4 separate regions of the Homo sapiens genome follow, and regions 1, 2 and 4 are each linked to region 3. The links come from fine-mapping of genetic effects on gene expression. A gene starts in region 3. Each other region holds a variant in brackets. All regions are shown on one strand. Distances are between the middles of the regions.

Evidence for each region. PIP is the estimated chance that this variant, and not a neighbour inherited with it, causes the effect.
Region 1: its variant is the best candidate, but not a certain one, in a credible set for the expression of LINC01094 in whole blood (TOPMed, PIP 0.66).
Region 2: its variant is the best candidate, but not a certain one, in a credible set for the expression of LINC01094 in whole blood (INTERVAL, PIP 0.87).
Region 4: its variant is the best candidate, but not a certain one, in a credible set for the expression of LINC01094 in whole blood (TOPMed, PIP 0.74).

The regions. Positions count from the first base shown.
Region 1 is chr4:78,588,551-78,596,606 of GRCh38, reverse strand. ANXA3 (annexin A3) reads right to left here. Exons shown (of 13, transcript NM_005139.3): 7 at 4,984-5,063; 8 at 1,170-1,226; 9 at 720-813. Among named protein-coding and RNA genes, the nearest start is that of ANXA3, 41 kb to the right of the region's middle. The variant C/T (reference allele first, on the strand shown) is at 3,748.
Region 2 is chr4:78,833,601-78,840,965 of GRCh38, reverse strand. BMP2K (BMP2 inducible kinase) reads right to left here. Exons shown (of 16, transcript NM_198892.2): 3 at 7,279-7,365. Among named protein-coding and RNA genes, the nearest start is that of BMP2K, 61 kb to the right of the region's middle. The variant G/A (reference allele first, on the strand shown) is at 5,517.
Region 3 is chr4:78,642,441-78,650,496 of GRCh38, reverse strand. LINC01094 (long intergenic non-protein coding RNA 1094) reads right to left here and starts at 4,503. Exons shown (of 3, transcript NR_038308.1): 1 at 4,234-4,503. It also overlaps the pseudogene HIGD1AP13. RefSeq lists an enhancer at 3,667-4,866.
Region 4 is chr4:78,662,696-78,670,751 of GRCh38, reverse strand. LINC01094 (long intergenic non-protein coding RNA 1094) reads right to left here. Exons shown (of 3, transcript NR_038308.1): 2 at 7,780-7,834. Among named protein-coding and RNA genes, the nearest start is that of LINC01094, 21 kb to the right of the region's middle. The variant G/T (reference allele first, on the strand shown) is at 4,088.

The DNA of each region.
Region 1 (8,056 bases), 54 kb after region 3:
GAACAATTTCAGAATTTCAAAGTCACAGTAATATCCTTATGTTTACTCATTGTTCCGTCAACTCAGCATAAGCTTGGTCTTGCTGTGTGGTTGTTCTGTAAACTAGCATCTGGAAGCCACAGTCAGAAGATGTTCACAGTAAATGAAGGTTTAGTTTTCTAGGTGTTGTTGCTTCCAGAACAGTTCTAGGAGATGCCATGAGCAAGAGGGCGGGTGCCCACAATTCCATGTAATAGCTGGTCTGACGATAAGAGTTGATCCATTCTACCACTTACCTTCATATCAGAAATAGCTAAAGGTTAATCAGTATTGATGTGTCAACAGAGACTCACCTGCAGTGTCTGGCTTTTCTGGAAGTGGCTAACTAGGGAGAACTGTTAGGTGGAGTGGAAGCAGTTGGGCTTCTCCATTCCACAGGAACAAGCCCTTCTACTCTCACCCTAGAGGGTGGCCTCTTTTCTTCTCCCTGCCACCTCCCTCCCCCATCTATTACCTGGTACTCACTAGGTAATCTACTCAGCCTCTATGGAAAAACAAAAGTGTAGTGTCAGTACTTCCTTGAGTTACAATACAGCTTTCCCATTTTGTTTCCTGAAGTGTGAATAACTGGAACAGACTTCGCAATTTTAAACTTCGTTTTTCTAGATCTTTGTATACTAAATGCAAAAACATTTGTAAAAACAACATACAACACAAAGGATTGTAATGTGAGTTTGTACTTAGTTTTAATTGAGGAAAGCTCCTTAAACACAGGATCTCAGTGAATTTGTCTTCATCCGTGCCCCATCTGTTCTCACCAGCTTTATAGAGAATCTATTCACAAGAGAATGATATTAGAGACACAATTATTTTCTTTTTGAGAGGTGACATGAGAAGAATCGGAGTTGTATTTCAGAGGTCAGTGCCATCATCTATTATCTAAATCTCTCACTTTCAGAAGACTAGAAATCAAAAATTGGGCTGTCAGGAGCCAAGGAGAATGATAACTACCACTGGGGCAGGCAAAAAGTTAGGGTTCCGATCCCCAAGCTTCAGGCTTCTCTTTCAAACAGGAAAAAAAAAAAAAGAAAAGTCCCTGTTGCTGCTATTTTTCTCCCTTTTCACATAAATGCAAAGGCAGCCACATAGGAGAATAGGTAAAGGAAATGTTTTCCCGCTTTGTTACTGACCTGGGCATCTTGTTTGGCCAGATGCTCATCCACTTTCAGACTTTCATCTCTTCTGCCCTAAACAGGAGGACGAAAACAAGGGCCATCCTTTAAAGATAGAAGATTCTAACACATAGTACTTCAACCAGCAGGGGATCTTAGTGGTTTTTCTTTAAGGCAGGACAGGTTGCACAGAAAAATCATGTACTCAGGGCTCCAGTTCTGGTTCTGCCATTGACTAGTCATGAAATTTTTAGCAAATCACACAATTTTGGGGGCCTCAGTTCCCTCCTCCGAAAATTCATATATATATATATTTAGAGACAGGTTCTCACTCTCTGTTGGCCAGGCCAGAGTGTAGTCCTGCAGTCATAGCTCACTATAACCTTGAACTCCAAGGCTCAAGCCATCTTCCCGCTTCAGCCTCCTGAATAGCTAATATGACTACAGGTGCACACCACCACACACAGCTAATTTAAAAATTTTTTTTAGAGATGGGATCTCGCTATGTTGCCCAGGCTGGTCTCAAACTCCTGGCCTCAAGCTGTCCTCCCACCTCAGCCTCCTGAATCTCTGGGAATACAAGTGTGGGCCACTGTGCCCAACCCAACACAGAGGTCTTATGTGGAAGAAAAGACAAGGTACAAACTGGGAGAACATATTTGTAACATGTATCTGATAAAGAACTTGTATCCAAAATACATAAAGAACTCTTAAAACTCAATATGAAAATAACAACCCAATTTAAAAATGGTTGAAAGATCTCAACAGACATCTCACCAAAGAAGACGCACAGATGGCACATGAAAAGATTCTCAACATTGTATGTCATTAGATAATTACAAATTAAAACAATAAGATGCCACTACACAACCTATTAGAAGGGCTTAAATCCAAAACACTGACAACACCAAATACTGGTGAGAATGTGGAGCAACAGGAACTCTCATTCACTGCTGATATGAAAGCAAAATGGTACAGTCACTTTGGAAGACAGTTCTGCAGTTTTTTAATAAAGCTAAATATCTCTTACTATATAATCAAGCAATTGCACCCCTCGCTATTTAACTAAAGGAGTTGAAAACATGTCCATACAAAAATCTGCACATGAATGTTTACAGAAGTTTTATTTATAATTGCCAAACTTGGAAGCAAAGAAGATGCCTTTCAGCAGGTAAAATAAATATTCTATACAATGGAATACTACTCAGTACTAAAAAGAAATGAGCTATCAAGCCATGAAAAGACATAGAGGAACCTTAAAGGCATATAGCTAAGTGAAAGAAGCCAGCCTGCCTGAAATGGCTACGTACTGTATGATTCCAACTATAGGACATTCTAGAGATGGCAAAACTATAGAGACAGTAAGAAGATCAGTAGTTGGTGGGGAGGAAGGTATGAACTGGCAGAGCACAGAGGATTTTTAGGACAGTGAAACTACTCTATCATACTGTAATGATAGACATATGACATTATACATTTATTAAAATCCATAGAACTATATCACAGAAAGAGTGAACCCTAATGTAAACTATAAACTTCAGTTAATAATAATGTATCAATATTCATTCACCAATTATAATAAATACACATACTAATTAATGCAAGAGTGAGACCTTCTCTCGCTCTAAAAAAAAAAAAAAAAAAAAAAAAAATTAGCTGAATGTGGTGGTGTACACCTGTGGTCCCAGTTACTCAGGAGGCTGAAGTGGGAGGTCTGCTTGGGCCCAGGAGGTCGAGACTACAGTGAGCTAAGATCACACCATAGTTCTCAAGCCTGGGCAACAGAGCCAGATCCTGTCTCAAAATAATAATAATAATAATAATAATAATGGAAAGGAAAGGAGAGAGTAGAATAGGGTCATATGGGAGCTCTCTGTACTTTCTGCTCAATTTTTCCATAAATCTGAAGCTGCTCTAAAAAGTAAAGTTTATTTAAAAAAAAAAAAAACTCAAAGGCGGGGCGCAGTGGCTCACGCCTGTAATCCCAGCACTTTGGGAGGCTGAGGCGGGTGGATTGATTGAGGTCAGGAGTTTGAGACCATCCTAGCCAACATGATGAAACCCTGTCTCTACTAAAATACAAAAATTAGCCGGGTGTGGTGGCGTGTGCCTGTAATCCCAGCTGCTAGGGAGGCTGAGGCAGGAGAATTGCTTGAACCTGGGAGGCAGAGGTTGCAGTGAGCCGAGATCGCACCACAGCACTCCAGTCTGGATGACAGAGTGAGACTCTGTCTCAAAAAAGAAAAAATAAAAAGTCCTCAAAGATCCCCAACTGTGATATTAAAGGCTCTATGGTTTAAGTGGTGTGTGTGTGTGTGTGTGTGTGTGTGTGTGTGTGTGTGGTATGTGTGTTCATGTACAAATACTTAAGCACATTATGGAAAGACAGGAGACAAAACCAAAACACGGGATTGCCTGAATTATTTGGCAAATTATAGGTGAATGAAACATTTAGCTACAATAGTTTAAAATGAATTTGTTCCTATTTTTAAACATTAGGTCCTTGTATGACTGTCTGATTTTTGCCTGGTTTCTTTTCTGTGCTGCTGATACCCTGCTGCTGTTTGCTTTCTTCTTGTTCTCTTTCACTTACGCT[C/T]GCTCCAATGACATAAATGCTGATTATCATCGGTCTTAATATAATACTAACCACTACCACCCTGTGTTGATCACTAAGTACTTCACATACTCTCTCTTTCTCTTAATCTTCATAACACCCTATGAGTACTTGTTATTGTTAGTATTTTAGTTTTACAGATATGAAAATGAATGCTTTAAGACTTAAAGAACTTGTCCAAATATACAAAGCTAGTTGGCAGCATGAGATTCCAGCCCTGTTTGATTCTAGAACCCTGTCCTAGAGCCCTACTCTATACTGCCTCCTGTGGGTGGGTGCATTCATGTCCATACACAAACAGATGTGCACTTAGGAATATATACCTCTGAGAGCATATGTTTGCAGCAATGCTTCATAAATTTGGTGTTGTGGGTTCAACCTTCATAAGTTTTTCACATTTAAAGTAACTGAAACCATAATTTAGATAAATCGCTTCCTAATGGCATAATGCCTCACTTTGACAGGTGCTGTTTCAACCATGAGGCTGAGACCGTTGTTGGGATTTTCTCACATTTAGGTGCTATGTAAATCAGCTGAAAGAAAATTGGTGAGCTATGGTTTAAATCACGTTCTCTCTTACACACAGCTGTGAATACACCTCATCCTTGACCTTACCATCTTTATAATAAAAGTCATAAGCCTTCTAAAAAGAGAAAGCAAGGTGTGGCCTCATTAGGTCACATGATGATTAATAGTTTGGCAGCTTTTCCAAGGTGGCAAGGCTGAAATTGCAGCAATCATTTTCTTTTTTTTAATCCTGAGACTGATACTCAATTTAATTCCCATCTCTAAAGATCATTCTTCTGTATCATGCTTCCTATTTAATTTAGAAGCTAACAAAAGAAATATTTATTCTTCAGAGTCCAGAAGAAAATAAACCTGTTCTTTAAAATGGAGACACTTATAATGGAAATAAATATTGTATGTCAGATGATGTATCAGAATGTCTTCTAATGTCAAAATTGTGAAACCTGACCAAAACACCTCCACTTACTGACTCAAATAAGTTTTCTTTGTTGTTACATCATTATGTATGCTTTTATGATCTTGGTTAAACATTATATTGCTTGGTGGCAATGAAAATGTAAAATGAACAAACCATTTCATAAGGAAAATTGTGAACTCATTGTCTCAGTTTGGTTATTTTTAAACTCCCTAAAAATTGTTATTGAGCATGCAGCTTACTGGGGAGTTAAAAAATAAAAAATAAAACCTTACATCTGCCAAAGTCAACAGAGCTTTCCGGAAGTCACCAGATGTTTCGGAACTAATGTCATCTCCAAGACTCTTCTTGTATACTGAAACCAAATCAGAATGAAATTAAGCCTTGACAAACTGAAAAATATGATTATAAAACAGAGAAAAGTTTAAATGCCAACACTAGCAAAGAATGGGTATGTGATAAGATAAATCTTGCCCTTTTATTTAATTTCTTCATGCTTTTCTGTTGTGAGATGGTACATTCTTCTTGTAACTCTTACTGCACTGTGTTGTGGTAGATGCAAAAGAATAGAAAGAGTTGTCATTCTGGAGCAAATCTTGGTTTATTTCATCTGACAATGGCACTAAGGGATGCATAGTGGAAAAGCTGGGGTGGATGAGCTACTAGTGTGCCTTTCAATTTCCATTCTGGCCATCTTCCATACTAAGAGAACCCTAACCTTAAGCAAGATATAATGTACACAGCTTAAAAACTACTTTCTCAGCTTTCCTCTTAGCTAGTACAGTTCTATAACTTAGTTATTCACAATGAAATGAAGGCAGACAAATCTCCTTAAAGGGATGAGGCCATGTTCATCTTAGTCCTTCCTCCATCCAACTGCCTTACATGTGAACTGATATCTGCATCTTGGGCAGCCATCTTGGACTGTGAAGATAAGGACCACTTCTTAGTGATGGCATAAAAGTAATCAAGAAGAAGTCTGAGTTCCTAAAAGCTTTGAGTAGCTGTCATACTAGACTTAGAATTGCCAATGTCTAGACTTCTACATATGATAGAAATAAACTTCTACCTTTTGTAAGCCACTGTAATTTTTCTGTTTTATCGAATCTAACCCTAATCTTAATGAATATAATTAAACCATATTTTTTCGTATCTCCCAAAAGTAAGAAAGCTACCCAAAACATGCCATTTCCCTTTACAAATGCCAACTGTGTGTTCATATATTTTAGTACTGACTAGTTGTAGCCCCTTTTGCATGGCCTGTGATGTGCAGTGCCCATCAGTCTTAAATCTCTGTCTGCCCCATCCATGGGGTGGTGATTCTCTTGGAGCCACTATACCCTTTGTTGTAGGTGACACCATGTGGCTATCTGAACTGTCTGCACCATTCTCAAGAATTCTATAAATTAGCCATACTAGCCATGAGAATTCTCATCTATTTAAATCAATGAAAGACAATTATAGAAAGTGATATGAGATTATCCAATAGCAAGAACTGCGCTGAGATGGAAACTTCTTCAGCATGATTTTAGTAAGTCTCTTTTTTATGAAATCTGTAACTTTTCAAAGCAATTCATATAAGCAAAATCCACCAAAAAAGTGTGTTATTTTTCTAAATAATAATATTTAGTAGGCATCATTAAACCTAATGGTTGTGATATTGTTACATCTATCCTTCATTCTAGTTAGATAAAAAACTTTAAATTTGAAAATATCAAGTAGAAGAATGAATATCCCATTTCTTAGAACTTGGGGAAGTATTTTGTAATTTTGGAATTATTTAGATGAGACTTTATAAGTCATTTCACACAGCCTCTCCCTTTCCTTCAAATATTTTGTGGGATATTAGAGTAAAAAATTATTTCAACCTAAGTTGACAACTACTTTATCCATTTTGAGGCACAGTAGAGTATAAAATCAAATAGAATATTTTAATAGTACAGGTGCCTGGACTAGAACTTTGAGTCCCTGATCCCTGTTTCAGTGTTCTCTCTCTCACACACCATTGACTTTAGAATACCGAAAAAAGTTAAGAATTTAGATCTCTCTTTATTTAGACTCTATTGTGCCACTGTACTGAATAAGCTGTAGAAGACATCTGGTCCCTTTATGAGGGCCAACATGATAGTGACTTCCTGAACCCATTGTATCTTCTCTCTTAGGGAGCGAGTGACACAGAAAAGGAGACAAAGACAATAGAATAACAAAGAACCAAAAGACTCCTGGAAATAATGAAGAAAACAGTAGCCAAGAATAACCAAAAGCTATGCACAAATATTTATAAGCCTTGGGTAGACAAACACCATGTGGTAGGGGAGGGGATGTTACTTGCTGGTGTCAAGAACATTAGAAGCAAAAAGGAAGAGGAGCAGTTACTGTCACGGAAAACATTAGCATGGGGAGCAATGGATGCCTGCTGCCGAGAGAGTGACAACATAACTGGGTCCCTCGGGTAGTGCTGTGACTTTAATCTCTGTAAAGTTTGGCTATGCATGATTGAGACAATTTCCTTCTTGATCTTCTTGTGTATCATTAATCTCTAGTAACCAAGGTAACCTTGATGCAGTTGTATCCTTTGTAGCCTCAGAGAGCATTACTCACATAGAAATTGAGGCTCTGGTAACTTTGTGCTATTATCATCTGTCATATCTGCACAACACTATCCTGAATGGTAAAAGTTTCACTTGGCTCTTAAGACCTTAACCTCAATTTTGAGGACACTCATTTAATAAATATTTGCACTTATCTGCCCCACTGTTCTTAGAACTGAGGATACAGCAGTGAACAACATAGACGAAAATCCTCATCCTCATAAAGCTCACATCCTGGAACTGTTTGTACCTAAATGCTGGGCTCCAGGGATCTGTCACAGGGCAGGTCCACTTGGGGAGCAGTGGCTCTTCTAAGAAACACCAGAAAATACCAAGCCAACTTGGGAAACAGTGCCTGGTTCTGATGGGTTTTGTAAAATATGTAAACCTTGTTGAACTGAAATATTTTAAACACCTAAAACATACTCTTTTGTGCATTAATGATTAAGCAATTCTCTTGTCTACTTCTGTCTGTACCCGCTCCCTATTAGGTTCCACCAGTACTGGGGAGTAGAGGGGACTGGAAGGCAGGAGGTGGAAAGAAGTGCAAGCTATCTGACGGCTAGTCATGTCAGTGTCAACCCAGGGAAGGCTGTTCACCCCGACAGCAGCAACTGGCTCCAGCTTCCTAGAAAAAGTCACTTTGACCCCCGTGTAGGTACTGGCTCCAGTACCTACAGATGGAGCCCTCTTTTCAGAGATCTGAACTCCTGCTCCTTAAGCCTCTGCTCTGAGCCCCTGAGGTCCCGACATCAGC
Region 2 (7,365 bases), 190 kb before region 3:
GTTTAAGAATAATTAAACAGAATAAAAAAATGCTTTCTTGGTGTACATTCACATCCTTGAAATATCATATCATAGCTAAAGAAATCATAACCTTGAACTCAATCCACCTCTTCCAAACTTTTAATGTTAAAATAAGCAGAATAAATTTTAAACAAACTTTAATTCCCTTTCTTCTGTCCAGAGACCTTTGAAGTAGAAATCCTCAATCACAAAAAACAAGTCCCTAGAGAAAACTAAAAACTATATTTGGGCTGAATTTCAAATGAAATAAATAAAATTTCATTACTCAAAACTCAGAGTTTTCTGAAAAATAAAGCTTAAAAGAAGGTATTCTAATTTAAAAAAAAGGTAAAAAGTCAGATATGGAAATCAAACATTATATACTGAAGGTTTTTTAAAATGAGATACCCCACCTTTAAACGTCGGTTGCAACTTAGCTCACACCTGACCAATCAGGTAGTAAAGAGAGCTCACTAAAATGCTAATTAGGCAAAAACAGGAGGTAAAGAAACAGCCAATCATCTATCGCCTGAGAGCACAGAGGGAGGGACAATGATCAGGATATAAACCCAGGCATTTGAGCCGGCAATGGCTACCCTCTTTGGGTCCCTCCCTTTGTATGGGAGCTCTGTTTTCACTCTATTAAATCTTGCAACTGCAAAAAAATAAATAAATAAAAATAAAATAAAATAAAATGAGATGCCTACAACTCTCAACTCTTTCCATATTTTCCAAAGAGGTATCATTAACCCAAAACAAAAGCTTTTTACACTCTGCCAAATTTCATCACTAACATTAAAAAGCAACATTTTTCTAATCTCTTAAAAAAGGTGTTCAACAACCTATCTGAGTACACATATTACCACTTAGTTAAAAAAAAACCAAAAATACAACCTATTACTCCATTTAAATTTTTGATAATATGACTTTTTTATTTTTACAACTGTGATGGTTAATACTGAGTGTCAACTTGATTGGACTGAAGGATGCAAAGTACTGATTCTGGGTGTGTCTTTGAGGGTGTTCCCAAAGGAGATTAACATTTGAGTCAGCGGGCCGGGAAAGGCAGACCCACCCTTAATCTGGGTGGGCACAATCTAATCAGCTGCCAGCACAGCCAGAATAAAAAGCAGGCAGAAGAACAGGAAAAGACTAGACTGGCTTAGCCTCCCAGCTTACATCTTTCTCCCATGCTGGATGCTTCCTGCCCTTGAACATCTCTCCAACTGCTTCAGTTTTTGCAGTCGGACTGGCTTCCTTGCTCCTCAGCTTACAGATGGCATATTGTGAGACCTTGTGATTTCATGAGGTAATACTTTATATACATATAAAGCTCCCCTTTATATGTATATCTATCCTATTAGTTCTGTCCCTCTAGAAAACCCTGACTAATACAACAAGATTTTTCAATTTTATCTGTAGTAGATTGCATTATTGGCCCTAAATTTTCAAACTTCACTTTTTACATGCACTTTGTCATGTAACTCTGCAGTCTGTCCCAATAAATGAGGCAGATAAATTTCCTGCTCTTTGATTTGGGCTCAGTCATGTGATTTTCTTTGGCCAACAGAAACAGGTAAAAGCGTCAGTGTCCTAGTCCCAAGACTAGGCCTTAAGAGGCCTCATATGCTTCTACATGCCTTCTTATGTTTCTATCATCCACATGAGAAAACCATCCACAGGACAGCTTGCTAGTGACAGAAAGAGGATGACGGACACGTGAAGCAGAGCTACTCCAACTAATCCCAGCTAACCACTGCCATGTGAGAAAGCCCTGCCAAAATCTGCAGTGCCACCCAACCAAGCTAAGTTGAAAGCAGCTGGCCCATGGATACACAGGTGATAATAAACGAAAGTTATTTTATGCTATTGAGTTTTGGAATTTTTTTTAATTAAGCAAATACTAACAGATACATAATCCATGGAAACATATGTAGAATACTTCCTAAAAACATACATTAAAAATTAATAAATTTTCATAATTTACTCACAAATTATTCATACAATAATATAAATGTGCTCAAAATACCAATACTGATTTCTGGAAGTCTGAGACCTAAAGTACATAATTTCTCTTTAAATCTATGTATCAAAATATTAGCAAATAAAGCAGTACCAAACCACGAATTTACCAAGACAAAAGATGATTACACTTGACAGAAGATGATGGTAAACATTGAATACCTAAAACCACGTAAGGGGATATGAGCTATATAACATATTGTTTTACTCTCTGTACAGTTTTATCCCTACATAATAAAAGCCAATGTCCCTGAACTGTATACATTATATAGGTTCCCTTACTAAAATACCTTAATTGTTAAACAATTTTATGTAATGCAGTTAGCTGTTACAGAGGAAGTAAGTGGAGAGTATTTAGTCCTCTATTCTCTGCCCTTCCAAATCTCTCCCCCACCATGGAAGAAAAAGGAACTTATCTAATTGATTCATCTGAGAAAAGATATCATGCATACTCCATTGAGAAAATTGAGCATACTCCATTCAGGCCTTCTGGATTTCTTCTATAAAGAAATAATTGCCCACTTAGAGGGTGCAACTGATCTGTAATACATGTAGTAACCTTAACAGGTAAAACATCCGAAGAAAACTTTGAACAAAAAAAGAGAAAGCATGGTTTGTCCGTGTCCCCACCCAAAGCTCATCGCGAAATCCCACATGTTGTGAGACGGACCCATCGGGAGGTAGCTGAAACATGGGGGCAAGTCTTTCCTGTGCTGTTCTCGTGATGGTGAATAAGTCTCACGACATCCGATGGTTTTAAAAAGGGATGTAAAAGGGACATTACCCTGCACAAACCCTCTCTGTCTGCTGCCATCCACATAAGATGTGACTTGCTCCTCCTTGCCTTCCACCATGATTGTGAGGCTTCCCCAGCCACATGGAACTGTAAGTCCAATTAAACCTCTTTCTTTTGTAAATTGCCCTGTCTCGAGTACGTCTTTATCAGCAGCGTGAAAATGGACTAATACAGCAAGGAAAAGAAAAAAATTTAAAACTAACATTAGCTGGCCACACTGGTTCTGCCCTTAATCGCAACACTTTGGGAGGCTGAGGTGGGAGGACTGCTTGAGGCCAGGAGTTCCAGACCACCCTGGGCTACAAAGTGAGACCCTGTTTCTACAAAAAATTAAAAATTAAGAAATTGGCTAGGCATGGCCATGTGCACCTCTAATCCCAGCTACTCAAGAGGCTGAGGCAGAAGGATCACTTGAGTCCTGAAGTTTGACTTTGGACTCCAGTGTGGATGACAGAGTGAGACCTTGTCTCAAAAACAAAGAAAGAAGGGTCAGGGGTGGAAAGAAAGAAAAATGGATACACTGAAATTAATATCCACAGACAACAAAAGATTTGCAGCTAAAACAAGAACTAGGTGTATTTTTCCCCCCAGTATCTCTGCATGGTAACAAGGTGTACTTTAGCAAAGAACACTGAGAGAACACGAAAGAGTCAAGCTGGGAGTGGTAGCTCACACCTATAATACCAGCATTCTAGGAGGCCGAGGCAGGTGGATCACTTGAAGTCAGGAGCTCAAGACCAGCCTGGCCAACATGGCAAAACCCCATCTCTACTAAAATTACAAAAATTAGTCAGATGTGGTGGTGCACACCTGTAATCCCAGCTACTCAAGAGGCTAAGGCATGAATGAGAATTACTTGAACCCACAAGGCAGAGGTTGCAGTAAGCTGAGATGGCACTATGCACCCTTTAGCTTAGGTGACAGAGCAAGACTACGTCTCAAAAAAAAAAGAAAAGAGTCCTTGGAAATTAAAAATAATATAATAGAAATACAAAATTCTATAGAAGAGCTAAAAGATAGAGGAAGGCTTCCAACAATAAAAGAATAAAGAAAAGGAAAATAAGAAAAGAAAATCAGAGGATTATCAATCTAGAAAGCTCAGAACATTTGAAAGAAAATGAGAAGTCCAGTAAGAGAACAGAAAATAGAAGACAAAAACGCCACAAAAAGCATACCAAAAATGACACACAGTAAGGCACGTATATCTTGAAATTTCAATACGTTGTAGATAAAGGAAAGATTCAAACTAAAAGTGTCCATGGAGAAAAGATGTCACATAGAAAAATTAAGCAATCACAATAACATCAATTTGTCAACAACACTAAGAAAAAAGTGGAATGATGTCCTCAAAATTCTGGATCAAAATTATTTCCAACCTATAATGTTTTAGCTAGCCAAAGTAACAATCAATGTGGGCACTGAATAAAAATATGTTTATATATGCAAGGTTTCAAAAATCCTTCTCCAAAAAATCCAGTCAGAAAGCTACTGAAAAACAAAGTCTTCCAAATTAGTGAGTGAAAACAAAGGTGTGGCATAAGTAGCAGGGAATCCAAGACAGAAGGGAGGCAAAGGTAATTTCCAGAAGGACAGCTAACTGCTGTTCAAAATTAAGCAGGATGATCGAAGTCTCCCCAAGGGGTGTTTTTAAGGGAAGAAAAAATGAAATCAAAACAAATATTAAAATGTCTAAACATACTGCATAATTATTTTTACTTCTTTTTTTTTTTTGAGACAGAGTCTCGCTCTGTTGCCCAGGCTGGAGTGCAGTGGAGCGATCTTGGCTCACTGCAACCTCCACCTCCCCGGTTCACGCCATTCTCCTGCCTCAGCCTCCCAAGTAGCTGGGACTACAGGCGTCCACCACTACGCCCAGCTAATTTTTTGTATTTTTAGTAGAGAAGGGGTTTCACTATGTTGGTCAGGCTGGTCTCGAACTCCTGACCTCTTGATCCGCCCGCCTCAGCCTCCCAAAGTGCTGGGATTATCAGTGTGAGCCACGGCGCCCAGCCAATTATTTTTACTTCTATTGGAAAATGCGGGACTAAAATATTAATATACATGAAGAAAATTAGGCAAATGAAAACCGAGGTAATTACTAATTCCAGGAAAAAAAAAGGATAAGAAAATACAACTACAGACACCATTAAATGGGAAAATAAACACTGATTTGGTCCAAAACCTGAGAATATCTATACTAGAAGTAAAATTCCTATCTTTTCTTAGAGACAATATCTAAAACATCAAAAGTAGCACTAGAAAACTTTCTTTCAAGAGCCTCTTCATGCACAGAATTATATACTTCCCTTGATTTTCTAAGTCCTTTCTCTTTTGTACCCTTAAGAAATCACTAAAATTACTGATTCTCTTTTATATAATGCAGTGTGGAAATATGGAAGTAAATATAAGAAACATCTCAAATATTTTAAAGGGACTACCTCTGAGAAGAGGGATGAGGCAGGAGGGTACTGATTCAGCCACAGCTTAAGATATTTGACTTTTTTTTTTTTTTTTTTTTTTGACACGGAGTCTCGCTATGTGCCCAGGCTGGAGTGCAGTGGCGCGATCTCGGCTCATTGCAAGCTCCACCTCCCGGGTTCATGCCATTCTCCTGCCTCAGCCTCCCGAGGAGCTGGGACTACAAACACCTGCCACAACGCTCGGCTAACTTTTTTTTTGTATTTTTAGTAGAGACAGG[G/A]TTTCACCGTGTTAGCCAGGATGGTCTCGATCTCCTGACCTTGTGATCAACCCGCCTCTGCCTTCCAAAGTGCTGAGATTACAGGCGTGAGCCACCGCACCAGGCCAACTATTTGACTTTTTAAACCATATATACAAATTACTTTGATAAAAATTTTAAATTTCATATACCACAGAGCTTGATGATTTGAATACCGGATAACTATTTCTAAAAAATTTTTAAAACAAAACAATGCATTCCTCAAAAAACAGATATGATCATTCTTCTACTTTAAAATAAAATTTGCCCCTAAAACTTGAAGGTCATTTGATTCCCCTTTTAAGATGTCTTCTAAGTGACAATTAAATTAATCCAAGGTTATGATTATGCTTGATTCAAGTATCTTTTAAAAGTTACAAGTAGTCAAGGGCTACAAGTAAACTCTAAGAATTAGCACTATAAATGCTAGAATTCAGGAAAATGGGGTAGAAAAAAATCAGCATCTTCTCCTAAAAGAGATCACAGTACAGTACTTTATAGTAGAGAAGATAAGATATAAAGAAAAATCAAGAAACATCTGGTTGTTAAATATTGTGTATGGAAATAAGTTACAAATACATCACGGTAGGTATTGTCACATTGATTCACTTCATTTTCCCCATCCTTTCCTCCTTAAAATACTGCAGTAAACAAGATCATATTTTCTCCAACATCACCATCATCCCCCTCTTTTTCCGCAACCTTCAGGAAACTGTAAGAGTTTCTGGGATAGTAATTAACAATCATTACTTTCTGAAGAGAATGTAAATGTAAACCAGGGCTCCCTAGAACCACAAGTGCCAAATATGGCTTGCAAGTTTGTAGGAAATAGAATATTTGCCTCCACCTTTCCACACATTAAAATTTTTAAGGACAGACGCGGTAGCTCATGCCTGTAATCCCAGCACTTTGGGAGGCTGAGGCGGGCGGATCACGAGGTCAGGAGATCGAGACCATCCTGGTGAACATGGTGAAACCCCATCTCTACTAAAAATACAAAAAATTAGCCGAGCGTCGTGGCGGGCACCTGTAGTCCCAGCTACTCGGGAGGCTGAGGCAGGAGAATGGCATGAACCCGGGAGGCCGAGCTGGTAGTGAGCCGAGATCGCACCACTGCACTCTAGCCTGGGCGACAGAGCGAGACTCCGTCTCAAAAAAAAAAAAAAAATTTAAATGTCAGGAATTTTTTTATGATGATGATGATGATTAAGGTATGCTATACAAGTAAATATTTATTTTAAAACATCACATTAGGTCCAAATAAAATGTGATTTTCTATATCTAATGTTTACAAACACCACCAAGAGACTACATAAAACAGGTTTATAAAGTCTATAGATCAAAATGCATCCTCCAAATTTGTTAAATTTAATGTTTACAATAACGTAGTAGAGTTCTGGAAAAATCTTACAACATTAATATTGACATATTATCCTCTTCTTGGTTGGATTACAGAAGAATTCTATGGAGAGCAAGAACTGTAACTCTGTACCTGCTTAGATTTCCTATTTTAAACTCAATATCACTTTTCTCATTCTGCGTTTACATGCTCATATCATAACTGCAGTAACTATGACTAGGTTTTAAATAATGTTTTAACAATATTCCTAATTAGATAATGAAAGGTAAGATTACAATAAGTGACTAGAATTAGTTAGCAGCTACCCTGGAAATAACAAAGATACCTAGTAACCCATTTAAGGAGAAACTTTTTATTACAGTACAAATGCAAAAAAATACTTACCTCGACAATATTCCATTAAGATAAGGACTTCCCATACATTATCACTAATTGAATTAACAGCACAGTCCAAATAGCCCACAATATTTT
Region 3 (8,056 bases):
TTTGTATTTTACTCTGAGTGAAATGGAAGTATTTGGTAGGTTTGAGAAATGACATGATCTGACCTATGTTTTAAAAGAACTATTTCAACCGCTGGGTTGTGAAATAGGCTGAAAAGCAGTGAGATCAGCAAGGAGATGGTTGCAGTATCCAGTGAGACATGATGCAAATATTTGCTGATGGATGGGATGTGGGGTGTGAGAGACAGAGATAAATCAAAAAGGACTCCAAGTTTTTTGGCATGAGAAAGTAAAAAGATGGCGTTGCCTTCAACTTATGTGCACAAGACTACAGGAAAAACAGGTTTGGAGGCAGATCAGCAGTCTGGTATTGGACATACACATTTGAGATGATTATTAGTCATCCAAAGAGAGATGTCATGTAGGAAATTAGATATCAAGTCAAGACACACGGGAGAAATCTGGGCTGGAGATATGAAAATGTGAGTGTTGTCAACCTATACATGGTATTGAAAGAAAAGAAGACAGATATTTATGTGCATAGAGACAGGCAAGTGGGTAAGAGGTGGTGGAGGGAGCTTGTGGAAGGTCTCTACTGCATGCTTCAATTTTCCCAGTGGAATGAGAAGCCAGGTTATCCATAGGGAGTTTCTAGTTAAGGGACAGGAGGAATGGCACACGCCTAGCTGTAGAGTAAGAGTGATTCCCAGTAATAACTGCCAGACTACTAGTCTTTATCTGGCCTAAGTTTCCCAGACTCTGGAAGTCTAGGGCTCATTCTGTCAGTGTCTCTCTTTGGTCCACCATCCCAGGCTTCAGTTTTTCTCACCTGTATCTTTGTGGTAGGGTAAACATACAACGTGGCTCTTTCCTAAACAGGGACTTTAGTATCCTGGCTCAGAGAACCTGCTCTTCCAAGTCATTTGAATGTAGCGTGCCTGGAAAGAAGAAGAAGGAACCATAGAGTTCAACAGCTTCAAACCTTGCTCCATGTTTTTTTACGTGAATCCTAGGGAAACAATTTTATTTGTGGTAAAAGATTTATATGTACAGATGTCCATAAGTGTTATTTATAATTTAAAAATGTGGAAACACTCTAAGCATCCCAAGAAGGGGAACTTTTAAATAAATTGTCATACACCTGTAAGATAAAATATTATATAAGCATTAAAAGCAATGTTTACAACAATGCTTAATAACATGGCAAATGACTATAATATGTTAGATAAAAAATTAATATAGAGGTCAGTTGGATTGTGAGAGATTTTCTCACTCTAGGAAGATTCTTCAATCACTATGTCAACAGACACAGATGTTTCCCTTTCTTCCTATGATAAAGATCAAGGATCCAAACTTGTTCGAAAAGTTGAAGAGCCACCATTTGTTCTCACTGGAATGGCAGGCTTTCCAGCAATTGTTCCATAAGGATTATACAAATGGAAGAGCAGAGGAAATGCTAAAAGGTCCCTTCTCCTGATCCACATGTGTTGTAGAAGCAATGACTGTTGGTATGGGCTGTTCTGTGTATTAGGAATTCTGGGCAAAGCCTAAGCCTTGGAAGGAGGATGCTGTCTTGATCTTGTAAGAGGACCTTACTTTAGTTAGACATCTCATTATTGAGGTTACATGTTTATGTTGGAAATAAATTATTTGAGTGGGTTCAGACGATAACACGGTATTTTGAATACTGGCTTCCTTTCTTGCATGCTTGATTTGCCTGGTGACCAAATTACTAGTGACTAGTTCACTAACTAGGTCATTCAGGGAAGTCAAGTTAACACAAAGGAAACATGTCACCTAATTCCACTTGATGATGTTAAAACTTTAAAACCACCTTCTTAGACTGTAAAGATTAAATTAGGACCGGGTGTGGTGGCTCATTCCTGTAATCCCAGCACTTTGAGAGGCCAAGGCGGGTGGATCACTAGAGGCCAGGAGTTTGAGACCAGCCTGGCCAACATAGCAAAACCCTGTCTCTACCAAAAATACATACACACACACACACACACACACACACACACACACACACACACACACAATTAGCTGAGGGTGGTGACACATGCCTGTAATCCCAGCTCCTTGGGAGACTGAGCCATGAGAATCACCGGAACCTGGGAGGCGGAGGTTGCAGTTACTGTACTCCAGCCTGGGTGATAGAGGGAGACAGAAAAGAAAGATGAAAGAAGGGAAGAAAGAAAGAAAGAAAGAAAGAGAGAGAGAGAGGGAGGGAGGGAGGGAGGAAGGAAGGAAGGAAGGAAGGAAGGAAGGAAGGAAGGGAGAAAGAAAGAAGAAAAAAGAAAAGAAACAGAAAAGAAAAGAAAGGAAAAGAAAAGAAAAGAAAAGAAAGAAGAAATTAGTTCTAAAGAAGATAGCTGGCGATCCCTGAAGTATTCCCAGTTTGCTGAAGAATTTCACATGCTTTGTATGTTATATAGGAGTCTTATCTGCCCTGGTTAATCTAACTTTTCTTCTTCCTGTCTTGTGAACTGGCTGTCTCTATTAGAACTTTTCTGAAACGTGCATGGAATACATTAACAACTTGTAACGCCTCTCACAACTCTTAAGTGTATGTATGTGTGTCTAAACCGAATCAAGAAAGCTTACAATAGAGCTTCATAGTAACAGTATTTATTTCAGAATCATAATTGTAAACATGAGAATAACTTAATTATGAACTCCAGTTTAGCTCTTTTATAAGTGCAGAATTATATTTTAGCTGCTGTTATATTAGAATAATTTTTAAATGTCATCCTATTTTAAGCACTCATGCTAAGGTAAGTGAAGAACACTTTTCAAATTTTCTCCAGAAGAATCATAAACAAGAAACTAAACAAATTACCTATAATGAAAGTGACTAATGAGCAAGCGGGTTTGGCCAGATACTATACACAAACTTTGATAAAAGGCAAAATGCTTAATTTATATATATATATTTTTAGATGGGGTCTTGCTCTGTCACCCAGGCTCTAGAGTGCAGTGGCATGATCACAGCTCGCTGAAGCCTTAACTTCCCAGACTCAAGCAATCTTACCACATCAGCCTCCAGAGTAGCTGGGACTACAGGTGCACACCACCACGCCCAGCTAATTAGAATGCTTTATTACACTTGTGAAATTTTCTTGTCTAACCTGAATTTACATTCTATAGTGATAACATAGCATATGTATTGTTATTAAAGTGACTATGTAAAAAAATTAATATAAAACTGTATATACAATATGATTCCAATTTTTTACTTTCATATGTGCAGAGAACACAGAATGAAAAGAAATAGTCCTAATAATTATTTGTCAGTGGTCGACTTGGGTTTTTTTCTATGTTATATAGCTCTGTGTTTTCTAAATATTCAGTCAGAAGCAGATATTTTTCTTATCATTACATGTTTAAATTATGGTGGAGAATTTTCAGCAAATATTAAAATAAGGAACTCCTTGGGAGGCCGAGGCGGGCGGATCATGAGGTCAGGAGTTTGAGACCAGCCTGGCCAATATGGTGAAACCCCGTCTCTACTAAAAATACAAAAATTAGCCAGGCGTAGTGGTGGGTGCCTGTAGTCCCAGCTACTTGAGAGGCTGAGGCGGGAGAACTGCTTGAACCCAATAGGCGGAGGCTGCAGTGAGCCGAGATCGCGCCACTGCACTCCAGCCTGGGCGACAGAGCGAGACTCCATCTCAAAAAGAAAAAAAAAAGGAACTCCTGAGTTATCCCCAGTCCTCCTTGGGTCACTCTGTCCAGCTTCTGATTCCTCTGCTTATTTTAGCTGCAGGCTTTATGAGATCTCCCTAGTATTTGGTACCTCATTCCTGGACTAAGTGGTCAAACGTGTGTAATGGGGCAAAAGGCCTTAGGATGTTGAATAATCGCTGAGCAGGTGGTAAACCTGTGACACTGATGTGATGGATGTAGGAGTGGTCTCCTTGCAGCCCTGGAGCCTTTCATCAGAGTAGGATTTCACCCATCTGAGCTGGCAACAAGCCCTGTTATTCCCAGGACATCTAGAATTCATCAATCGTGCCTGGATTGTTTATTCACTTCACTCATGCTCCTGAATTCTTTGTAGCAGAGTCATTTCCTGTTTAATTCTCTCCAAAGTTTCCCCCTTTGGCCCAGGACTGAAAATTATCTGTTCTACAGTGCATAAAATATTTTTCACAAAGGTAAGCCGTTAGTTATGTATTAGTCTGTTCTGGAAAAAAAAAGTCAAAATAGTTGAGACCTACAGTTAGTCCATGTGATCTGGAAGTGACCAATAGTCATCACAGGGGGTGCACTTACCTAAATCGAATCCGTGTGTATCATTTTCTGCGTTGGTAAGTAGATCCACGTTTTCCTTTGGGAGGCTCACTTTAATATCCTTCTGCTTCTTTAAGATTGGGAAACCACCCAGGCCTCCCAGCTCTTGGCAAGCAACACTCTGACTTCATGTTGTTACTCAGCATTTTGTTCCTTATTGAAATGCCTGGCTCTGCACAACTGGTTTGTAAAGTCTGAAGATCCCCTGGCCATGCCCAGAAACAGCAGCCTCAGGAAGACAGAACTGAAAAGAACACACAGTGAGAACGAGAAGGGCTTTACAGCTCCGGTCAGCCTGACTCAAACCTGTGTTAATAGCCCAGACTCTTGTTGCTCCATCCAGACCTTCCTCTCTCTTCTAGTCACAATCCTACACACCCTTCTAGTAGGAACTCAAAAGCCACCTCACTCAGCCTAAAGTAATCTATCCCTCTTCTGTGTTTCTTATAATACTTTTATTTACTTTGTCTTACAAATTTTCCTTGTATCATACTTACTTATGTATGTATGTCTTCCTACGAGGTTGTAAGTGTTCAGGAAAATTAGAATGATCCAGTTTAGCTTGTACACTTCTCCTTGAGCACAATGCCTTGTACTTATTAAATAAAAATGCTTGAATTGCATGGAATTGAATCAAAATCTAAGAAAATAATCTGCTTTAGAATAGATCTGAGAATGCTGAGTAATGCACAACTCCTGCCTTCTTTGGGGGGACCTGAAACCTTAGGGGGACTTCAATTACTTCTGGATTTGGTATAGCTTCAGCAAAGGCAAGATTTCCCAGGGTTGCTATGGCCTACAGGAATATCAGCCTCCATTGGTCTTAGTGTCTGGCTTTAAATGGTAATGGAATCACACTGATTTTTTATGTTCGTATAGTAACATCATAAAGATACTGAAAATACTGGCAGTATGAAAGGAGAAAAGCAAATTCATTTCTTTTTTGAAAGATAAATCTCATTCATAAGGGATTAAACTTTTATTGTAGATAAGGTGAAATTTGGTAAGTTAAAATGAGAAGAATTTCAAAATGCTTTGTTGGGTGAAAAAAACCTTCTAAAGTAGTATGTTTATTATGATTCTTTTTTTGGTAAAAACAAATTTAAAAAGATAACTTCTATATAAAGTATATGTATACACGCCTGGGGAAAGCATTTGGAAAATTATACAGGCATTAATTTCTCCTACAGTTAAAGTGTCCCTAACAAAAATTGGACATAGCACAATTAGCTGCTTATTGAACATAATTTAATGAATCACTGTTAGTAATAACCAGAACTGACTGGGAACTGGGAAATGATAAAAAGCTGCTGCTTCCCCTGGCTGTAATGGACTGTACTGCAGGCAGACCTGCATGGCAACAGTGATGAGGCATTAGACGGTGCTGAATACGTGGCGGAAAGTGTAAGGAAGTTTGTGTTTCCTTTTGTAGGTTTTGATCTACCTTTTTAAAATTAAAGCTAGCAATAACCAAATACATTTATGGTTATGAAAACAAATTTATTGTTAAAATTACTATTTTTAAAATTCTGTTCTACTGTGAGTTTTAACATTTCTGTTCCCATTAAAACATTTTTTTTTAAAAAAGTTAGTTTTAAATTGCAATTTGGCTTAATTTTAATAGGAGATACACTTTTAAAGGACAAAATCTAAAAGGCACATGCTAGTATTTCTAAATGAGAAATTTTTGTTCCATCCCTATTCCCCAGCCATCCTTCTCCAATTTCAACCAGTGTTACCTGTTTCTTTACATTCTTTTGATAAGTTGAGATTTCTTAGAAATGCACCTATTTTGCAACAGTAGAATAGGCTATATACTAAAATACTAACTGTAGTTATTTTCAAACAACAGGATAATAGGAAATATTTATCTCTTTATAGTTTTCTGGATTATTTTTTTCCCCAGTAAGTAAAAGAATTAAAGATAATTTCTAAAACCATTTTGTTGGACTCTGTGTGACAGCATGCCTAAATATTACATTGTCATCACTTTTTAATTATTCCATTTCTCTGCTTCTGGTCTTTAGTCTTGGTTAACAGTATGGCAATGCAAAAAAAAATTTCCTTTTACCTACTTTCTCTTCCTTCCTCTTCCTCAGTCCATACCTCATGAAAAAAGTAAAATTGCATCAAAGTCATATTCTGAAAAGAAATTTCTTATTAAAATTTTCACTGGGGTTTCTGAATATAATTTGACTCATTCTAATTAAATCAGATTAATTAATACCTGCTATGCTTGGTTCACTAAAGATGTTTTAAGTAACAGCAATAATAATAGCAAATTCTTAGGACACATTTATCTTGCTGGGTTAGGTAGGAAAAGATTATATTTATTTTTTAAATGATTAATGAAATAAAGAAAAGCTTGGAGATTGGAGGTGGGATAATGGTAATTGTCCATATTTACATTTTGAAAATACATATTTTTGAGCTACTTTCACTATGCCTGGAATTAACAATTTTGCTAGACCTTTTCCAGATGTGAGAATTTGATCAATAGCACCATTTATCCATAACTACAATGTATCTGCCTTGGAGTAGACCACCTCGGGCCCAGGAAAACATCAGCTCTGGCCTTGTGGCTATGCCACCTGCAAATACAACCCCAAATTTTCCTTACTGGGTGTTCTCTTCTGTATCCTCTCTCCCTTCCCTTGTTATTTATCTCATTTTTCCTTCTTTCAGGAGGCCAATGTAAGCCTAGAGTGGTAGAGTGGAATGAGCATGGATACAGGACTTTGGGAGCCAGGATTCGTATCTAGTTCTCTGCTAAACTAGGTGTCTTAGGCAAATCACCTCAGTATTCTGGTTTCCTTCTCTTCCTTCTTTCCACAAATATTTGCAGAGCTCCTACCCAGTGCTAAAGACTATTCTAGGTGCTAAGATGTAAAGATGAACAAGACATGACCACTGCACTTAGAGACTGTGTACTTTGTCTCTCCAGCTGTCCCTGAGAAAGCTGCATCTCAAGACAGCAGCTTAAGTGAGTTTGTGGTTCTGCCCACCTGCTGTCTGGCCAGTGAGGAAGTGTGTCTAATGTGGGCACCTACTGGGCTCCTCAGTGGCAAAAGAGGAGCCTAGAGATGGAAGACATGGAGTATAGTAGGGACACAAGGCTCTGTTAGATGGTGTCAGGGAGCAAAAGGTGGCAGCAGTGACAGCAGCAATTTGGCTCTATGCCCTTGGACAATGCAGGGTGTGGCTAGGGCTGCTGTGGTCAGAAGGAAAAGCAACTGTGCTTTTCTGGGTAGAACATCAAGTGAAGACAGTTAGCCGAGGTAGCATGATTTGTTACGATTGACTGTCAGAAAGAGTCACAAGAATGCAGGCTTACCTTGAGCCTTGGGTTAGAAAGATAATGAGTTTGGAAGTCAAGGAGAGGCCAGTGAATTTGATGCAAATCATTTCATGAAATTAAACCCCTTATTCTATGGGACTCTTCTTTCTCTTCCTGGGACTTGGCATTCTTTATGTCTTGACATTTATTGGATGAATGTATGAATGGAAAATCTTCACAGAACTTAAATGTACATTGAGAACACATCACATCCTTGGTGGAAAACTGGGAGGCTGGTAATCAAGAGCTGAACATTTTATTTCATGAAATAATATCACATAAAATGCTATAATTGAGTGAATGGTCTCGTCAACAATTTTACTCATAGAGAGGGCTCACTGCAAGGCCAGATGGAGTAAAGTGGAGAAGGGGAGAAGGCTAGTCCTGTCCCCATGCATCTCAGGGATTCTCTGAGCAAATGACTTCTCCTATAAGCATGAAAACCTAGGAGGGAGATTTTTATTGCCA
Region 4 (8,056 bases), 20 kb before region 3:
CCTTGGACCCAGGCACAAACCAAAAAACACCATCCTAACTGTCCTCGGGGTAAGCTTGGCCATTGTATTTGTCTGTCCTCGCACTGTTATAAGAAATACCTGACACTGGGTGACGTATTTTTTTTTTTGACACTGGGTAATTTATAAAGAAAAGAGGTTTAATTGGTCCATGGTTCCACAGGCTGTATGGGAAGCATGGCGGTATCTGCTCGGCTTCTGGGGAGGCCTCAGGAAAACTACAATCATGGCGGAAGGTGAAGGGGGAGCCAGCACTTCACATGGCCAGGAGCAGCAGGAAGTGGAAGAGGTGCTACACACTTTTAAACAGCCACATCTCATGAGAACTCACTATCTCCACAACAGCACCAAGAGGGATGGTGTTAAACCATGAGAAACCAGCCCCATGATCCAATCACCTCCTACCAAGCTCCATCTTCAACAATGGGAATTACAGTTCAACGTGAAATTTGAGCAAAGACACAGATTGAAACCATACCAGCCATAGATGGGTGCTGCACAGCCAGGGCTTTCCGTTTGGAGCTGCCCATTAAATACCCAGTTGCTGTGCCCATTCACTGGCAGGCCAATTAATACTTTCTAATATAATTTAATAAACCCTTAACTTTGTGAGTGGCCAAATGGCTACTACTACTCAGTTTTCAAGACTCAGTTCCAATATGCAGATAAAGTTGTGAAAGAATGGAGAAAACTGTTAAGATTAGTTATCTCTGGGAAAGGAGAGTAGGTAGGGGTGATCATGAGAGGGACTTTTCACTGTATAACCTCCTATGCTATTTGAATATCTCACAATATTAGTGTATTATTTTTATAATTGGATTTTCAAAAGTTAGAGAAATGGGGGTGCCGTCTTTGTTTTTTTTGGTTTAAAAATGACCTAAAATGTCTTGTAAAGAAGGCGCAAAAGCCATATGGGAAACAATAAGTAAAAATACCTTAAGTAGTTTTTAAAAATTATTGTCTTAAACATCATTGAGAGCTGTTGTCTCATTTAAAATGTACTCATTAACACGCCAAAGGATAAAATAAATAAGTAAATAAGGAGCATGTCGTATGTCCTTTGTAAATGCAAAGCAATTCTCTCATCCACCATTAGTGGGCCATCAGCCTTCCTCTTCAATTCCTACCTGACTGTGGGACATGTCCAGCCTTCTGAACTGGGTAGACCATGTTCTCCTGTTAGTCTTCCTACCACATGTACCCTGGTATCCTACCACAGTACCATATACTGTACTCTTCTTTTCAAATGTGAATCAGGTGTATGTGATCATTTGATTTTCATTATAACCCTGGAGAAATAATGAAAGACACCTATTACCTCTTTGCTGATGAGGAAAACCTCTGCAGTTTTTGATGGAGCTAGGATGAGGATCCTGGTCTCCTAACCAGGTAGGACATTTTCTCTGTTTCTCCCATGCTGCCTCATCTCTTAGATTGTTAGACCTGGACTCCCAAACCACCATGCACGCATTCCTTTTTTTTAAATGTGATTATTCTAGTGATACTGTAAACATAGCTCCCTAATTCTCTTCTAATGCTATTTCACAGCACTCTACTGTTTTCCTGATAACATAAAAAATTGAATATATATACATATATTCCAATAGAGTGTGTGTGTGTGTGTGTGTGTGTGTGTGTGATATTTTTTTCCCTAACCAGGCTATAAGCTCAATGAGGGCAAGGACTATATGTTGCCCATCATGACTCTATGCCTATTTAGTGCCTGGCATATTTGTTGAATGAATGAACAAACACTAGCTACTTTGTTAGTTCCTCCTGTTTCCGTTGCAGAATTATTAAAACTAATTTGAATGGAGAAGGAAATTGGTTGAGTCAGGTATCTAGGAGGTTCAGGAATCAGTTGGCTTCAATCATAGCTCTGTGGAGGTTAGACTACACTTCTTTTCTTCTTCTTACCCCTTCCACTCTTCCCCTTCTTTTTCCTCTTTCTTTCCTCCCCATTCTCCCTCTTTTCCTCTTCCTCCTCCTTCTCCTTTTGCTCCTCTGTCTCTGCCATTTTCTCCTTCTGCGGCTGGACCTGCTCCACCTCCTCCATGCAGGGTGGTGAAGATGGCACAGGGAAGCTCTGGGATCTCTTGCCCTAGCTTAGCATCCCAGGGGAAAGAAACATATCTATTTCAACATCACTATTTTAATTTCAGGAACAGATAATTTTAGGGTTGGCCAGGCCTGTGTCCTATGCTCCCAGTGTGGCTGGAAGGGGGGTAGGGTACAGTGATAGGCAGCCCCTCTGAAACCATGTGGAAGCAGGGAATAGTGGTTTCCCCAAGGAAGGAATGATGAAAATAACATATGTCTGCCATAAATATTTTCTTAGGGAATTTTATTAAGAAGTAAAGAAGAGGCTACTTTTAATATGAAGCAACTTCCTGTCTTTTTGAATTAAAGTTCCTTAGATGGAGCTAAATTATGACCTTTTGAATTGTTTGACTTAGATCATAAACTTTTACAAGATGAAGTACACTTTATTCTTCGAGTCTCAAGGTGTTAATAAGTCAAGTGCAGTAATAAAGAGAAGCCCACCTACAACCTTTTACATCTATCTGTTCAGCAAAGCAGAGGACAGCAAAACATAGTTGTTTTATTTTGGCTTCCAGCCACATAGGAACTTTAGAAATTTGTTTGCAGATAAACTGTTTCAATGTTGGAGAGGAACTGTACTGCTCAGTAACTACTATGGGATGCAGATCCCCATTTCATGGAGAAAAAGCTGCAAGCAGCGTGCTCATTTGCTGTGCATATGGAAAAACATAGAATGCTCACCATTCACATGACTGCTAAAGCATTGAAAGTACTGATATTTCTGTACCCTCTATTCTCAGAGGGGGAAGTGGGTTTTCAGTTTTGAGCATTCGTTGATTTGCCTAGGTTCCTATGTTTGAAAGTTGTCTTCTGGGAAAGAAGTAATAATAAAAAAAATTTTTGTTTTAAAAAAAGACCAAGCTTTTCTTATCCATTGCTGCTTCAGGGTACTTTACTTTTATATCCTTCCCACATTGGCGTGAACTGTCTGAGAATGCAACCGTTTTGTTGTTGCTGCTGTTGTTGTTGTTATTGTTAATTTTTAAACAAATATTTTTGTAGAGATGGGGTCTCACTCTGTTGTCCAGGCTGGTCTCTAACTTCTGGCCTCAAGCAATCTTCCCACCTCGGCCTCCCAAATTGCTGGTATTACAGGTGTGAGTCATTGGGCCTGGCCTGCATCATTTTTTAGAAATAGAGAATGAGTGTGACAAGTATTCTATTCAGTTGCCCAATAATGTAGTCAGATCAGATACTTAATTGCAGCTAGAAAGTATTAAGTGGGTTCTTTTTTTTTTGGTCACAGGTCTTTTTTTTATATATAAATTTGATCTTAAGTAGAAGAAATAGTGAACTTCTCTGCTTTTTAAAGTTATAAATATATATGAATAAGAAAATACTGACAGAAATGAAAACAACCTCACATCCTGTACTTCCTGACATCCTCTTTTAATTTTGTAAAGTTTCCTGTCATTATTTTCCAGTGTATTTATTTTTAAGGAAGTGTCTTTAGCAAGAAGAAAGAGACAAGCACTGCTTCCCTTCCCCATATCCCTCCCTCTCTCCCTCTCTCTCTCTCTCACACACACTCAGACACTCACATACATACACACACACGCCCCTCAGAGATTTAGCAATTTTGCAGTATTATTATTCTACGATTCAGCAACCATGACCCATTTCTAGGTGGACACATAGATTTGGGAAGCAGTGGAGTGAAGCTTCAGCACCAAAGGGAAAGCAAGAGGTACTAGGTCCTAGATCTCTACATTTATTCATGGTGAAGGTGTGATGAAATAAACATGTCGTAATATCATTAGTTATTGTTGTTAAGCTACCATTCATTGAGCTATTGCTAGGTATTATGTGCTAAATACTAAGTGTGCTGTCCTAAGTCCTAAGTACTTTACATGCACACACAGACACACACACACACACACACACACATACATTGCAGGTTTGTAATATGCCCACAATTTTTTAAATCAGCTTTGTTTCTTTTTCTTTTTCTTTTTTTAGAGACAAG[G/T]TCTCGCTCTGTTGCCCAGGCTGGAGTACAGTGGCACAATCATATCACTGCAGCCTCCACCTCCTGGGCTCAAGCAATCCTCCTGCCTTAGCCTCCTGAGTATCTGGGACTACAGACATGCACCACTGCACCTGGCTCCATGATTCTTAATATCAGAATTTCTTCTGTGGGTTAAGCCTGTGTTTTTGGTGGTCATGACCCATTAGTAAATTATGAAATTAATTTAATGAGTAGAGATAAATTCAATTCTATAACATCTTTGTGAGGTGCATTATATTAACCTCATCTGACAGATGAGGAACATCAGAGCTTGGAAGGTTAAGTAACTCACCCAAATTCACAGACCTTGTTAAATGTAAGATTGCATTTGGAGTCTTTCTGTCTCCAAAACCTTAACTACTAAAGCTATACTGTACCATTTAACATATCTCACAGTAATTCTGGGCATATCACACCACAACTATAACTACATATAGAAGAAAACCTACCTTCTAATATATCTTATAAAAGAGAAAATAGGGTTTGTAAATTAGCAACCAGCCTGTATTGTATTGAATATAGGCTTAAAAGTCTAATATGTATGTGCATATGTATGCATGTGTGTGTGTGTGTGTGCATGTGTGTGCGTATCAATTAGAGGGTGGGGAAAAACATTTATAGAACTCAGTACCATTAACAAAAACATTAAAATTCATTGGCATTCAAAATTCATGAAGGCCCTAGTCAATTTTTGGCTGTTATAGCAGAATACCAGAGATGGGTAATTTATTAAAAAAAGAAATTTATTCTGTTCATGGTTCTGAACGCCAGGAAGGCTGAGAGCATAGTACTGGCATCTGGCAGGAGTCATTCCATGGCAAAAGGATGGATGGCAGAAAGGGGCAGATGAAGCAGAAAGAAAAAGGGGGCCAGGCTCACCACAATTAACCCATTCCCATGATAACAACATTAGTCCATTCATGAGGACAAAGCCCTCATGACCTAATCACTTCTTAAAGGCCCCACCTCTTAATATTGTTACAATGGCAATTAAGTTTCCAACACATGAACTTTGGGAGACATGTTCTAACCATGGGGATGACTGACTTCTTAGGCAAGAGTTTCTTACTTTAAAAAAATGCATAATAATAATATTTTGTGTTTACACAATGCTTTCCAGTTTATACAGGGCTTTTCTAGATATCATGTGACTTTCAAACATGCTATGGACTTTATATGTGAGGCCTTCACATGGTACAGGCTGTAAAAGTGGTTCTAGCTGATAACAAGTAGTTATCAACAAGAAAGCTAACACATTTTTACCACAATCCATGTTATAAAAATGATTCTTATAGACAATCTGCCATTCCCAGCTCTTAAAGAAGTAGCATAGCTGCCAAATGAATAACCAAATAGATATATTTAATGGGCTCTAAAAAGTCAAACATAAAACCAATTAATGAATTGGCTCTGGGACTCAAATAGCTTTTGCAGGAAACATCTTTACTTTCAGAAATAATTATAATGGTGTTTCTTAAACACTTTTGCCATTTCAGAAAGATCCCCTGAAATTACTAGGAACACATCAGGTGTCAGCATTCATATATTCTCACTCACTCTTCATTTTTTTAGGGGAAACAATGTATCCAAATTGACACAGACAGAACTTCTTTTAGTTGGTGTTGGCTGTCATTTTATTCAGGTTTAAGTATGAGTCTAATTACCCTCAAAGGACTTTTTGACAAGTTTATCACACGACCACCAGAATTTCTGCTGTGGGTGAAGGAAGTGTTTTTGGTGGTCACAACAACTATCCATGACATCAATTTAGTGAGTACAGACAAACACTTTTTAAAAATGAAATAGAACAGAATATGTAATATCAGAATGTGTCACTGGTAGTAAAGGTAAGTGTGTTTCATAGAACTTTTCCTGCAGTGTTGTGTTAGTCCCTTCTTGCATTGCTACTCTAAACCCCGAAAATCTGAGACAGGTCTCAGTTAATTTAGAAAGTTTATTTTGCCAAGGTTGAAGATGAGCCTGCGGCACAGCCTCAGGGAGTCCTGATGACATGTGGCCAAGGTGGCTGGGGCACAGCTGAGTTTTATACATTTTAGGGAGACATGAAGCATCAATCAGTATATGTAAGAAGTACATTGGTTGGGTCTGGAAAGGCGCGACAACTTGAAGCAAAGGCAGGAAGCCTTGAAGCCGAAGCAGAGAGGGGGCTTCCAGGTCACAGATAGGCGAGAGACAAATGAATGGTTTCATTCTTTTGAGTTTCTGATTAGCCTTTCCAAAGGAGGCAATCAGATATACATCTATCTCAGTGAGCAGAGGGATGACTTTGAATAGAATGGGAGGCAGGTTTGCTCTAAGCAGTTCCCAGCTTGACTTTTCCATTTAGCTTAGTGATTTGGGGGCCCCAAGGTTTATTTTCCTTTCACATTATAAAGAAATACCTGAGACTGGATAATTCATAAAGAAAAGAGGTTCACAGCTCTGCAGGCTTTGCAGGAAGCAATGATGCTAGCATCAGCTTGACTTCTGGGAAGTCCTCAGGAAGCTTATGATCATGGCAGAAGGCAAAAGGAAAGCAGGAAAGCAGGCATGTCACATAGTCAGAGCAGAAGCAAGGAGAGGGGGAAGGTGCCACACACTTTCAAATGACCAGATGTCTAGAGAACTCACTATTGTGAAGACAGCACCAAGCCATGAGGGATCCAAACACCCTCCCACCAAGCCCCACCTCTAGCACTGGGGATTACAATTCAACATAAGAGTTGGGCAGGGACAAATATCCAGACTATATCAAGTGCCTATGTGTATATTCTGTGTATACTGAGTGAGGATACTTAATGTGGGTTATGGTTTTAAAAAGCTTTGGAAACCACCATGTTAAGGCATTATCACCAAAGGAATTTTAGTGAAAATATAGTTTTTGGGTGGATGTTTCAGAGCACACAAGACTTTTTGTTATATGGAGTGGGGCACAGTGGAGAGAATTGCTGAGGGGTGAGGGATGTTGATGTCGAAAGTACAAAGGAGGGCAAATGAGCAAAACTCCACCTAATCCAGTTATACCTAGTGGTGGTCCTAGTCTTTGGTCATGGCTATGGCTAATAAGATTTAAGATATACCTGTGGGTAGCACTGGCAGAAAGAAAGGCAAAAGGGAGAGGGACAGAGAGAAGAGGAAAAGAAAGCAAGAGGGAAAGGTCAGAGTGTTGACAGTGTGAGTTGGAACAAAGATTGGGATTTATGTGTGAAAAAGAGGAAAAGGAGAGATAAGAGCAAAACTAAGAGACGTGCAAGATGAGGATTGGCAGATAGAATAACTTTCAGCTTTCAGCTGCCAGTAACGTAAGCTCAACTACAATGGCTCAAACAATAAATAAATGTATTGATTGGTTCACTGGCTTGGTTATGTCACAAGGATCCACAGTGTTGTCCTCAGTTGCTCTCCCCTTGTGAATATATGATGGCTATAGGATGGCTAAAGCAGGGCTGTGGGTCTGGGATGACTGGAAGAGCAACTGGGATTATGTGCTTCCTTATCCCATTCAAGGAGCAAAAGGCTGGATTCCTGTGGATCTCTGAATGACAAGGGATAATTTTCCAGAATACCCAGCACTCTTCTGCATACATCTCATTGGCCAGACTTGAATCACATACCCATTTCTGAATCTATTACTGACAGATGGATGGCATTACTTAGACCATTCGGATGCCTTTCTGGAGCTGGCATCAATCTTTCCCAGGCACATGACTAGAAGAGAGGAAAGCAAAATTGAGGTTCATTAGGAACACAGGAGATGATTTTTTGCTGAGTAGGCAATCAACAAAGTTCACTGCACACAAGAATTTTTAAAAACTTTGGTAATATATCCTAGTGGCTATAGTAGATTTGATATGGAAAATTTCCATCACTAAAACAGTTTCATTTTTAGAGTCCTATTATGTCATGTTCCTTCTCATAGAAGAATACCTT